Regions from separate parts of the Homo sapiens genome. Here regions 1 and 2 are each reported to be linked to region 3. Evidence: microRNA targets listed by miRTarBase, many of them from high-throughput screens and not tested one by one. Region 3 holds a microRNA gene; each other region holds the end of a gene's coding sequence.
The links. The annotated mature microRNA hsa-miR-3927-5p reads GCCUAUCACAUAUCUGCCUGU and lies in region 3 at 1,605-1,625, shown strand. An mRNA with a match to its seed (bases 2 to 7 or 8) in the 3' UTR can be bound and repressed. Matches are read on the target gene's strand: a 7mer-m8 pairs with bases 2 to 8, a 7mer-A1 pairs with bases 2 to 7 and ends in A, and an 8mer does both.

Region 1 (4,147 bases), not on the chromosome of region 3:
CTGTGATCATCTTTTGTTGGTGGGTATTTGCAGAATGCATTGAACAAATTAAAGGAGGGTAAGAAATGGCTTATCTGGTGACAATGGAGAGTGGTATTGTTTTCCACATCATCATATTCTTAAACAACTCCCAGCGATCTAAAATGCTGATGAAGGAAGGATAGAGTTTTATTTATTTTCACCAAATAGCTGGACATATTAAAAACTTAAGGTAGACTGGAAATAAAATACAACTCCAACATGTTTTAAATCAGATTTGATTTTTTTAATTCAAATTGACCCAAAGCAAAACTTACATTAAAAAGGAAGAACAAAATACATTATGATATAACACACTAGGAGTTACATGAAAGCTAAATTTGTGGGCAAATGGCCTTATCCCAATCACATTCTGGGCTCATGAGCACTCCTGCAGGAAAGTTAGAATCTCAATTTCGTATGGTCCACGCCGGTCATTAAACTACACATTCTTGTCTCTTGGGGTGTGCATCTGACGAGTCATGCTAGAGTCCCTCATGCTCCAGATGTGTACTCTTGCTACTGCCAGAACGCTGGATTCTCTAGTGGAAATGCTGTTCCAAGCATGACTGACAATGAATTAAAAAATGAGACAGTCAAGTCCTCCAAACTAACAGGCATGGATTACTGTGTAGTAAATAGTTTAGAAATATGGGAATTAAATAATCTAAAAAACACTCTTACTCTGCTGTACATTTATAAACACAAATATTTACAAAAAAAAAAAAACACAAAACCTTGTTTTCGAAAGATGAGGTTTGCAGTTCATTAATGATCATAATCTTTTGTAAGCTGGTTTCTTTGGTGTATTTGCCAAATATATTTTTATAAAGGTTTAGTAATAGGCTTAAATAATAAATTTCAAAGGAAACATAAAAGAATCTGACAAATTTGAAAATATTCTGAACATTTTCTGTTCTGTTTCTGGAAAAAACAATCGGTTGATTTTTCTGAAAATATCTGTTCTCCCTATTCATTATGTGACCATGGAATGCTTCTCTGTGAATCCAATTCAAATGCAGACCTGCAGGTGTCACCACTATCATCTACCAGTAACCCACCTGGAGACATTTTAGTTATTGTGAAATGTGATTGGGATTTTATTAACAACAAAAATAAAACATTCTTTTTAAGCTTCCAGATAAATCAAACCTCAAACAATAAATAATGGAATTATACACTTCTTCATTAAATAGAAATTTCAAAATTCCAGGAAGAGCTCTCATAATTTTTTTTTTCTGAAGTCACAGCAGCAATACAGAACAAAGAATTTACCTTAATCTGATCTTTTTACGTGGAATTCCCTGACTCAAACTCAGTGGCTTAGTTTGGAAACCTCTGAATGGCTGGGGAGAGAAAATCTTTTGAAACTAAGTGAATAAATTAACACACACATACGTGGAAATCAGCCCTTGTGCAAGTGTAACATGAACATCACTGATGAGAGTGCAGAAACTCCAGGCACCCCTCTGCCTCCTCCTATCCCTGGGCCTGGGGTTGTAGGGAGAAGTCACACTCAATTCATTTCTAGCCACACCATGTCCCTAACAGTGCTAGTGTGAACTAGCCCTGACCTGGGTATTGGTTTAAAGAATGAGAATACAGCTTGGCAACTGTCTTCATAAGGGACTCTCTCTGGAGATAACTTTTTGGAACATTTTTATGGGGAAGAGGACAGACTACCCGTTCCTATCCATCAGGCTCCAGCTAGTTTGGGGATGGTTATAGAACTGGCCACACTCAGAGTGGCTGCCTGCGAAAGAGTCTATGCCAAAGAGTCTATGGGCCACACCAGCAATCTCCCGAATAATCCTCTTCTCTGAAGCTGCCCGTCTTCGGAAACCTGTGCAATGCTTAGGCACAAGCAGATCAGAGTCTAAGAGCAAACGCTGTGCTTGAGAAAACAGCACTGCTGGCTCTGAAAAAGGTGAAGCCAGAGAAAACTCCTAGTTCTGCTTAGTTACACTTCTGGGTGAAACAGTTTTACACTTCATGACTTAAATCTAGAAATTCAGACGAGAGAAGCCCTTCGTCTTGTAAACTTCTGATAACAAATTTATTAACAGTGTGTTAAATATTTTTTCCCAAAGCACTAAGAACGATACTGGGACATTTGAAAAGGTTCTTCTGAAGTTAATAACACAAATCAAGCCAGAATACGTTTCTGAGGGCATCCTCTTAGATGCCTAATGCCTCTGGGACCTTTTCCATTGTTACTGACACTTTATCATATCCGTGTTTACACGGCAAACATATGCCCAATCAACCCAGAAAATAATTGTCCTGAAGAGCCTCACTGTATATAACCTTAAAATGGGAAATGTTTAATTAGCATATTAGAAATTAGCCAGACTTATAAATGTGTACCCCTTAAAGATTTTACGCTTAAAAAGTTTTTTTTTTAAACTGGGAAGAAAAGAAACACCATGAAGCCACCCCAAATTATTGAACCATTAAAGCCAAATGATTTAACAATTTTTAAGGGAAGACTCGACCACCAGGGTACAAAATTTTCTGCTTAAAGTGAAGTCAAAGACATAGCTTCAGATGGAAATTGCAACTGACATACGATGGCTCTGCAGTGACAACTGAAGCGGCGGCTCCTGTCCTCACGGGCATGTCAAAGCTGGCTGTGAAATGACGACCAGCAAGTGAAATAATGGATAAAATACACCAGAAGGAGTATTGCACTGCAGGCACAGTTTTAAAAACAGAATACACTGGCTTCACAAAGTTATTTTCTTTCCCGTTAATTTTTTTAAAAGTACAACTCTAACTAGAGATAGAAATCGAGATGCAGTGTCTCAGGGTAGTGTACTACAGTTGTTAAAAAAAAAATAAGTTAAAAACAAGAGCACAGCAAAAGAAAAGCAGAGGTACTGGATTTATGTCATAAGCAGAGATACTGGATTTATGTCATCCGAAAGCTACATTAATTAGGAAAAAGAACAGTTTGAAACGGCCAGTTTGTACTCATTAAAAATGAATGAGGTGACAGCGTTACTTCAAACATTTCTTAGGGCATTTTCCAAAAGAACCCAGGGTCGCCCTGGGTGAAACTGTGCCTCCAAACGTTAACAAGTGCTCTGCTGGTTTAGAATACCGTGCTTACCAAGGAACCATAAATTTGGAAAGGGTAAATTCTCCACTCTAAACCTGCTTGTGTCATTTAAGAAAAGACAATTTTTCTAAATGCAGTATTGTATACAAAGCTTGGACCTCTTAAACTTGGACCAAGAAACCAAATTAAGACCTTCAAGCATGTGGTGTGTGTTTTTATATATATATAAAAAATCCCTCCCCTACAATGAAAACCAACCAAACAAACAGAAAACCCAAAAGTGTATACCTGCTTTCTGATTTCACAGCAAATCAGAAATTGCATAGGATATACTTTGTGCAAGGCAAAAAGCCTTTTAAGTATCTAGAATAGAACTCCTAATCTTGCTCACAGTTCTGGCATATCAGATATCATCAAATTTGTGTTTTAAGTAGTCTTTCATGACCTTGGCAATTGGTAGTTCATCAAGTAGCTTTAGGTTTTGAAGGCCTATACATTGTCGAATTTTAATTCGGCACAGGTCCTGCAAGTTTCTGGGCTGTCCTAAAAAGACAGAAAAAAGAAAATGTTACAAAGCCACAAAGCACAATATTTAAGGCACTTTTGAAAAGAACTGTTCATTTCCCTGGAAGTTCTCTCTATGGACTTGACATGCAAAGGACCGGAAAGATACCAACTCAAAGTGTCCTAGGACCTTCATGCGATGCCTTATTTGATCCTTTTCACAACCGTGGGATGGTGGATATTTTCAACTCCATTTTACCAATAAGAAAACTGAGTATCAGATGTAAACAAGTTGCTTAATATCAGACAACCAATTAAGGCTTTCAACTGAGACCAAAAACAGTTTTGATTCTAAGCCTCATATCCTTTCTGTTATAAATCAGGAAAATTCTGGTTCTCGTCCTGACTAGGTCTCTCTCACGCTGGGTGAGCCACTGTGAGCCAATCATTCCTCTGAGCCTTGGCTTCTCAATCTGAAAAGTGTGGGGACTGAAAGAGATGTCCCCTATTGTGAGCCTCCCTTTCAGCTCTGGGTCTAGGACACTGGAGCCCGGACACCCACCA
Region 2 (4,147 bases), not on the chromosome of region 3:
TAGGGACGGGGTTTCTCCATGCATGCTACCCAAGCTGGTCTCCTGAGCTCAAGCAATCCACCCAGCTCGGCCTCCCAAAGTGTTGGGATTACAGGCATGAGCCACCGCACCTGGCTCCCAAAATACGTATGTTCTAATAGAACGACTTAAATAGGAAAAAAAATTGAAGAAGATAAAAAATAAAGTCATGATTACAACAGAAAAGCATAACCATACAAGTGAACTACAATTTGGCCTAGAGCTGCCCAAAAGACAAAGAGGAGCAACAAAGAGAGCATTAGACTCTTTAAGATGAAAACGAATCCCAAATGCCCATCAAGGATAGACTGGATAAAGAAAACGTGGCACATATACACCATGGAATACTATGCAGCCATAAAAAAGGGATGAGTTCATGTTCTTTGCAGGGACATGGATGAAGCTGGAAACCATAATTCTCAGCAAACTAACACAGGAACAGAAAACCAAACACTGCATGTTCTCACTCATAAGTGGGAGTTGAACAATGAGAACACATGGACACAGGGAGTGGAACATGACACACTGGGGCCTGTCAGGGGGTGGGAGGCTAGCGGAGGGATAGCATTAGGAGAAATACCTAATGTAGATGACGGGTTGATGGGTGCAGCAAACCACCATGGCACGTGTATACCTATGTAACAAACCTGGATGTTCTGCACGTGTATCCCAGATCTTAAAGTATAATAAAAATAAAATTAGGGAAAACCACTAAATAGAAAAAAGAGAGAAAAACAAATTAGGCTGGTCACAATGGCTCACACCTGTAATCCCAGCACTTTAGGAGGCTGAGGCGGGTGGATCACCTGAGGTCAGGAGTTTAAGACTAGCCTGACCAATATGGTGAAAGCCTGTCTCTATTAAAAATACAAAAATTAGCCTGGTGTGGTGATGTGCACCTGTAGTCCCAGCGACTCGGGAGGCTGAGACAGAATTGCTTGAACCCGGGAGGCGGAGGCTGCAGTGAGCCGAAATTGCGCCACTGCACTCCAGCCTGGGTGACAGAGCGACTTTGTCCCAAAACAAACAAACAAACAAAACAAAAACCACACAACCCTCCCCTGAAACTCAACTGTTTAGGAGAAGCACATGTTTTGCTGAGATCAAGACCCAAGAGAAGTTTCTCCTATGGGTCTTCATAAAAGGTACACTATGTGATATATTTAATAGTAGCCATTAGCCTTAAAAACACATGTATTGAAAATATATGTTTTGATGACTGTGTTTGCTATTAGGAGCCAACAGCATAGAAACAAAGCATAATGCAGTAACAGTAATTCTATGAAGAGCCAAAATGTGGATCAAATATGTAGCTCTCTGAAGATTTCCTAGAGGATAAAATTTAGATTCTTCTGCTAGTTGGGAAAACAGACTTGTTTTATCATAATCCCCAAACTCATGTGTTCCTATAAGTAATAAAATCCATTTCAAAACCAAATTATTTTTATATCTAAAGCCACTGTTCCCTTTTAATATCACAGACTGAACTAGACTACATAGATAATTTATCTAAGCATGGTTTTCTAAATAAATGTGCTGTAAATGGCTAATCTCGATGTAGTAGATACATTTTAAAATGCTGTTTTATGGTTGTACTAACTATATGTAAACTTATTTCTAAAAGGTTAAAAGATTATCCACAAAAATGTTATTTCAGTTACATTCAATTTTTAGAATTATTAGTATAGGTTATGTTAAAGTGCATTGCACCTATTCACAAAGACTTTCAAAAAATGATCAGCAATATAAAGTGTAAACCTAAAAAGAAAATCAGACTCATTCTACATCTGTGAAATTCAGCACTTAAATATAATTCAATTTACAATAATTGTAAAAGATAGGGAGAATATAGAAAATGGAGGGGGAAAATGGTATTCAACATATGAACAACACAGCTACTGTTGTAGTGAAAAAATAATTTATTAAATGAACATAATACTGGGAGTAAAATGCATTATAAAAGTAAAAAAAAGTAAATTATAAATATAAATAATAGTGGTTTACCTAATTAACAGATTTTTTTCTTCATCCTTGAAGAACTTTAAATACAATCTTCCAAAAAGCCAGATTGAAAAAGTGGCTGGTTCGCTTTAGAACAGACAGGCAACACTATAATATCTAGAATTTGGCAAAGATCTGTTATATAAGATACAGAATGGTACTGATTAAATGATTGTTCTTTTTAAGCCTTTTGTAAGTCTAGAATAATAATTTTAATAAATAAGCAGATCAATTTATTATATTCATTTCTGTCTCTAAGGATAGCAAACATATTTCTGATACACATTGTGAAAAATGTTCTGAGAACATACCTGTGCACTTTGACAGACTAAAAATTTTTGGTTATTTGGTAAAAAGTGATCTCCTTTTTACTTCAAAGGTTAACAACAGCCATTGAATGTGTTGATATATGTCATTAGAATTTTAAACAGCCACACCTTAATATATATATACATCAAGATACCGATAAACTTTTAGATAGTAAAGAAAAAAATGGAGATTGTTATTCTATTTCCCCAGTAAGTTTCCCTCAGTTTTTAGAAAGCATACCGACTGGGATTGCAAAATGCCAGCATGATTACAATGCTTATTAACAGCAATATGCAAAACAGTGAAAATAGAAAATAAATAACTTCATCCTATAAAAATGAAACAAGGCACTTTTAATGACTGTACACAAAGCTGAAATAAACAAACATTTTTTCATAAAGCTGACTCAAAGACCCTAGGAGACTTTTGTAGAAAGTGAAATAGTAAAGGCACTACATAATTCTTTCTCCTAACTCTACTTACTAAAAAAATCCACCAATTAAACTTGGCACAAAAGAGTTTAATTATCATAAAGTGCATCACTTGGCTAAATATATTAAAAAGAAAATCAGCCATAATACAGTATAACAACATCTTCACACAAATAGAAATAAAAATGCAATGTCAGGAGTCAAGCCAGTTAGGAACTTTGCAGTATATATGGCTTTTTATTTTCTTTTTTGTATAAGCCCCTATTTATTTAGAATCTATATTTTCGAAAGAATATGCCTTAACAAAAGGAGGTAGTATTCTGAAAGAGGCAAACTCACTAAATCTAGGTAGAGATAAAGATTACGTGGAAACTAAACAAATGTAACATATTAATAACTGTGACACTTATTAAAGTATTTTGATATTAATGAATCAGCTTTTAAAATCAAGGCTATCTTATCACTTTAGCTATATGATTACAGCTCTTTCAAGTAGTTTTCCTTTGGTACTAGAAAGTCATTTTTCTAAAGAGCATTAACATTTCAAATAAGCAAATTTTATTTAGAGATGTAAACATGTAAACATTAAAAACTCAACTAAATTTTATCTTTATTATGATGGTCACTGATTTAAACTATTAATGAAAATATGTCATGTCAGAGATATAAAGAAGAATATATCACCCAGATAGTAACATGCAATTAATTTCCATTTGATTAATATAATTGGTGATTTAACACACATACATATATACACAGTAGTTTGGAGCAATATATAGGCAAAACACCATAATAATTTATGCACAGTATTTAAGAATGTGGGCCTTGATAACAGAATTCCAACAAGATTTTTTTTAGTGTATTAAATGTAATTGGATAAAATACAATTAAAAGCAGCAGTGAATATATTTCCTATCTCAATAACTTAAAAAAACTTCTTTATGTAAACTTTATACATGTGCATTCTTGCTCTTTTCTATATGTTTTACAGTTCTTGGTTCTTCTTTTAAAATAGTATTTGCCACTCTTCTAAATTTTTGAATAGTCTAAATGGAGGGAACTGCTTGTGATACATTAGTCTTCTTCAGCATCATATGCCACTTCTGCTACTTCTATCTCTGATACAGCATTTTCAGGTTCACTAAAACTTAAGCATGGTTTATTATCAGCTCTGCAAAAAAAAAAAAAAAAGGAACATATCAATGATGGGACTGGATGCATGCTATTATTTCATTTTCACTATTACCTTTAAAAATCTTCTACCTTATAGAAAATTTACATACTTAGTGTAAAAGTATTTAATGTAAGAGTATTTAAACATTCAATCAGAAATTTGATATATTTAAGTTGTCATTGCCAAGTAAGACCTTTGGAGATAGGTTTTTAAA
Region 3 (4,147 bases):
CAGCTACTCAGGAGTCTGAGGTGGGAGAATTGCTTAGACCCAGGAGGTTGAGGCTGCAGTGAGCCGTGTTTGTGCCACTGCACCCCAGTCTGGGCAACAGAGTGAGACCCTGTTTCAATAATAATTAATGAATTAAGAACATTTCAGATATAATACACAGCTTGAGCCAGGGCTAGTCAAAGATGTGAACCAGCCTACTGCATTAGTGTTTTGGAAGGGCTGACACTTAGGGGCAGGAGGAGGGAGGGAAAAGGACCAGGGGAAGGAAAGAACAAGGTAATGCAGGGTTCAGAGCACACAGTGCTTTAAACACCATGTGCAGGAATAAGAAATGTGTCCACGGTTTCCCTTCTCTGAAACATTTTGTGTAGGAGGTCCCAAAGGCCTGTCTCTCCCTGATTAAGGAGGAACAAGGTACCTCCTAAAGAACCCTGAATAATTACCTAAAAATAGATAAACAATTTTAATCTCCTTTATGTCATACTTATGATTAAAGTCTTAAAAATCCTGTGCTTGGTGTTTCCGGTTTCAATGTGTGGTCACACACCTTACCTCATGTAGTCTTCATGGCATTCAGGAAGCAGGTGTTACCAAATTTTGTTTGACAGATGAGACACTGAGATTTAGGAGTCCCTAACAAACATTTCTTGACGTAAAAATGAAAGCTGTCTTTTAAAAAGCTTTAAAGATTAGTGTGATAATGTTTAACTGAGTAGGTGTGTGTTCTTCTCAGGAGTGAGAAAAGTGTGTTTGGCTGCCAGATGGCTTTTGGAGACTTGTGTTGGTTAGGCCAGCAAAAATGCCCTCCAATCTGTGGACCAGCTGCACCAGCTGCACCCAGGAGCTTCTTAATAATGTAGAGTGTGAGTCTCCCCCTCCAGAGGTTTTCAGATTTGGTAGGTCAGGGGTGAGAATCTGGAAGGAATATCGTTAAAAAGCTCCTCAGGTAATTCTGATGCACGGCCAGGTGGAAGATTGGTCAATTGCCTCTTTTGGTTGCAAGGATAATTTGAGGCCCTGATGATAAAAATGTGGTCTGCAAGCCACCTGTCTCAGCATCACTCAGATGCAGTTTCCTGGACCTCGCCCTACCAAATTAGACCTACCAAATTAGAAATCTCCAGAGGTGGGCATATTTTAAACAAACTCCCAAGATCCATTTGTTCATTTATTTACAAATATTTCTTCAGGTCTAGGTATGTGATAAACACCATTCCAGGAACTGGGATATAAAGGCAAATGAGGCCAACAATGTCTCTCCCCTAAAGACACTTGAATTTTGACCCAGCTCTTTGAATGCTGGAGTTTGAGAACCACTATCTTAAAATAATACAGGGATTCAACCAAAGTTCCTATTGGGACTGCCTCAGTTATCCATTGCTGGTAACAAAACACTGCTAAAACTTAGTGGCTGAAAATGACAATGATTTTTCCCGTCCTCATGATGCAATGTGTTGGCTGGTTGATTCTCCTACAGGTCTGCTCTGGGTTCGACTGAGATAAACCTGGCCTGGCTGGGCCCCTCTCCATGAAGTTGTTCATCTCAGGCTTCTTAGGGCATGGTGGTTTCAGGTTTCCAAGAGGGCCAACCCCAATATGCCAATGCCTATCACATATCTGCCTGTCCTATGACAAACATGGCAGGTAGATATTTGATAGGCATTGGCACACTGGCAAAACGAAGTCCTATGGCCATGCTCAGCCTCAGCATGAAAGGGGAATTCACAGGAGTGTAGACACCAGAGAGTCACTTCTTTGGGGATCACTGCATTCTGTCAAAGTTACTGTGGCTGCCCCTTGAACCTGGCATCTCTTTGTGTATCTTCTCACTTCCCCACTGTTCTCTAGTTTAAACTCCTAGGTGAAGGAATCCAATTGGTCTTGCTAAGCACGTCCATGGCTCACAGTCACCCCTACTCATGGGGATTTTAGGACTCAGCAGGATTGCAAGCAGAGCTGGTGTAAAGGAGATGAGAAGGACACTAGGGGTATCTTAAGCACCATGGCTGAACCTCCCATAGGATAGTCATAAAATTCCCATGGTCAGTGCTTTAATCACCTTGATATAAAAATATGCCCCTAAATATTTTATGTATTTGTTGCTGGGAGCAAAGTTAAAGTTTTGTGTTTGATATTGATTACATGGATTTTTTTAATGTTTCTTTTTGATTTTTGGAATAACACATATATGTTGTAGAAGTTTTAAAAATACAAAAACGAAAATTAAAATCACTAGTCATAGCATTATCTAGAAAAACCTTTTAGCACATTTGCTTTCACATTTTTGCTCATAAATGTGTTCTTCTTTACAGAATTAGGCCAGCAATACAGCTTTCTGTCTTACACTCTTTGAATGCTGGAGTTTGAGAACCACTATCTTAAAATAATGCAGTGATTCAACAGGAGTTGAATCACTAGCATTATCACTAGTGCTAGCATTTTCCCACGTGATTACAATCTCCTCGTAAAATAATTTTGAGTTATATAACAATCAGTGAGACATACTATTTCATAATCATACAGTTGCTTGTTTCATATATATATATATATATATATATATATATATTTTTTTTTTTTTTTTTTTAAGACAAAGTTTCGCTCTTGTTGCCCAGGCTGGAGTGCAATGGCGCAATCTCGGCTCAATGCAACCTCTGCCTCCGGGGTTCAAGGGATTCTCCTGCCTCAGCCTCCTGAGTAGCTGGAATTACAGGCATGCACCACCACACCTGGCTAATTTTGTAGTTTTAGTAGAGACAGGGTTTCTCCATGTTGGTCAGGCTGGTCTCGAATTCCCGACCTCAGGTGATCTGCCCGCCTTGGCCTCCCAAAGTGCTAGGATTACAAGTGTGAGCCACCACGCCCAGCTGTTACATATTTTTTGGCAATTATCAGCAGTGCTATAATGACTCATTTCTGTTCATAAGCCTTTATCTGCATTTGGATTTTTCCATTGAATAGATGGGGTTCATATCTTTTCTTTATATAGCACAGTTTTTAAGATTACTTCAATGTTTCCTAATAAATAGCTAAAGAGATATTTTCCCTCCTGAATGGGACCAACACTTCCCTCTGCTGCATATGCCATATGGCTTTGCAGAATGGGTCTATTTCCTTTTGCTCCATTTCCTCTTGTTTGACAGGCCTTGTCTATCCCCATTTCCTTGTGGGTACAAAAGAGAGCCGGGCTGGGTTACGTTTTCAGTGACTTTACCAGAACTACAGACAGAGCTGTACATGTTCCCACGGTCACCTCTTTATCCAAACCATGGAAAACTGCCCTTTTTTTTTTTCCTTTCCATAACTGGCACAAGCTGTGTTTGGGTCAGGAACCCAACATCAACTACAAAGACTGACCTCCACCCAGGGAACTTGAGAAGAAGCTAGATAACACTGTTGGGAAATTATTCCCTCATGTGAATTGGCATTTGAATATGTGCTAGTATTATGCACATTTTTAAAATATCACTGAACTAAATGTAATGGAAAATAATACACTGGCCTTAGTAAGTCAAGGAACTTGGCCTGACGGGCATATCAATAAGGCAACCCAATGTCAACTAATTCACTCACTCATCACACTCTCAGTAAGTGCTAGATTCTATCCAGGAGCCCAGCATAAGAAAAGATGTTAGACAGTTAACAGTTGGAGTAGCAGACTTAAACAACTGTATATAATGTGTTAAAGTGAGAATCTAGTAGATAATGCAGAGGGAGAGGCCCCTGAGCCTATCTAGGTAATCAAAGAAAGCTGGTTACTGCAGATTGCGCAGGATTGAGAGAAATATGAAGGTTGCCTCAATGCATTTACCCTACAGTGTGAGAATAAAATACTGTCACAGAGGCTGACAACACTGGGGCAGCTTCCCATGATTGATACTGCACTATATACAATTCTAGATTGCAATGAAATCAAAACCATGAGACACTAAGAGGGTTTTAGCTTCCCTTTATTTCCTGATAATTTCAATGAGGGATTTTACAGACTTTTTAATTCTTCTGCTCAAATATGGAGGTCATAGGCCCCAGAGCTGGTTTGGAATTAGCTCACTCAGCAATACAGGTGGACAACAAAAGAATGTGCCCTTCACCTGTAGATCTTCCTTTAAAAATAAATAGAGATGGGGTCTCACTATGTTACCCAGGCTAG

Region 1: the mRNA of ASB7 is a reported target of hsa-miR-3927-5p. Seed matches in the 3' UTR shown: 7mer-A1 at 1,706-1,712 and 7mer-A1 at 1,496-1,502.
Region 2: the mRNA of SNX16 is a reported target of hsa-miR-3927-5p. Seed matches in the 3' UTR shown: 7mer-A1 at 3,670-3,676.

The regions. Positions count from the first base shown.
Region 1 is chr15:100,647,798-100,651,944 of GRCh38, reverse strand. It overlaps ASB7 (ankyrin repeat and SOCS box containing 7), which reads right to left. Exons shown (of 6, transcript NM_198243.3): 6 at 244-3,622. The coding sequence ends at 3,483. Among named protein-coding and RNA genes, the nearest start is that of ASB7, 47 kb to the right of the region's middle.
Region 2 is chr8:81,797,664-81,801,810 of GRCh38, forward strand. SNX16 (sorting nexin 16) reads right to left here. Exons shown (of 8, transcript NM_152836.3): 8 at 1,920-3,930. The coding sequence ends at 3,834. Among named protein-coding and RNA genes, the nearest start is that of SNX16, 42 kb to the right of the region's middle.
Region 3 is chr9:109,508,996-109,513,142 of GRCh38, reverse strand. MIR3927 (microRNA 3927) reads left to right here and starts at 1,598; the gene lies at 1,598-1,668. It also overlaps a transcript of PTPN3 not described here.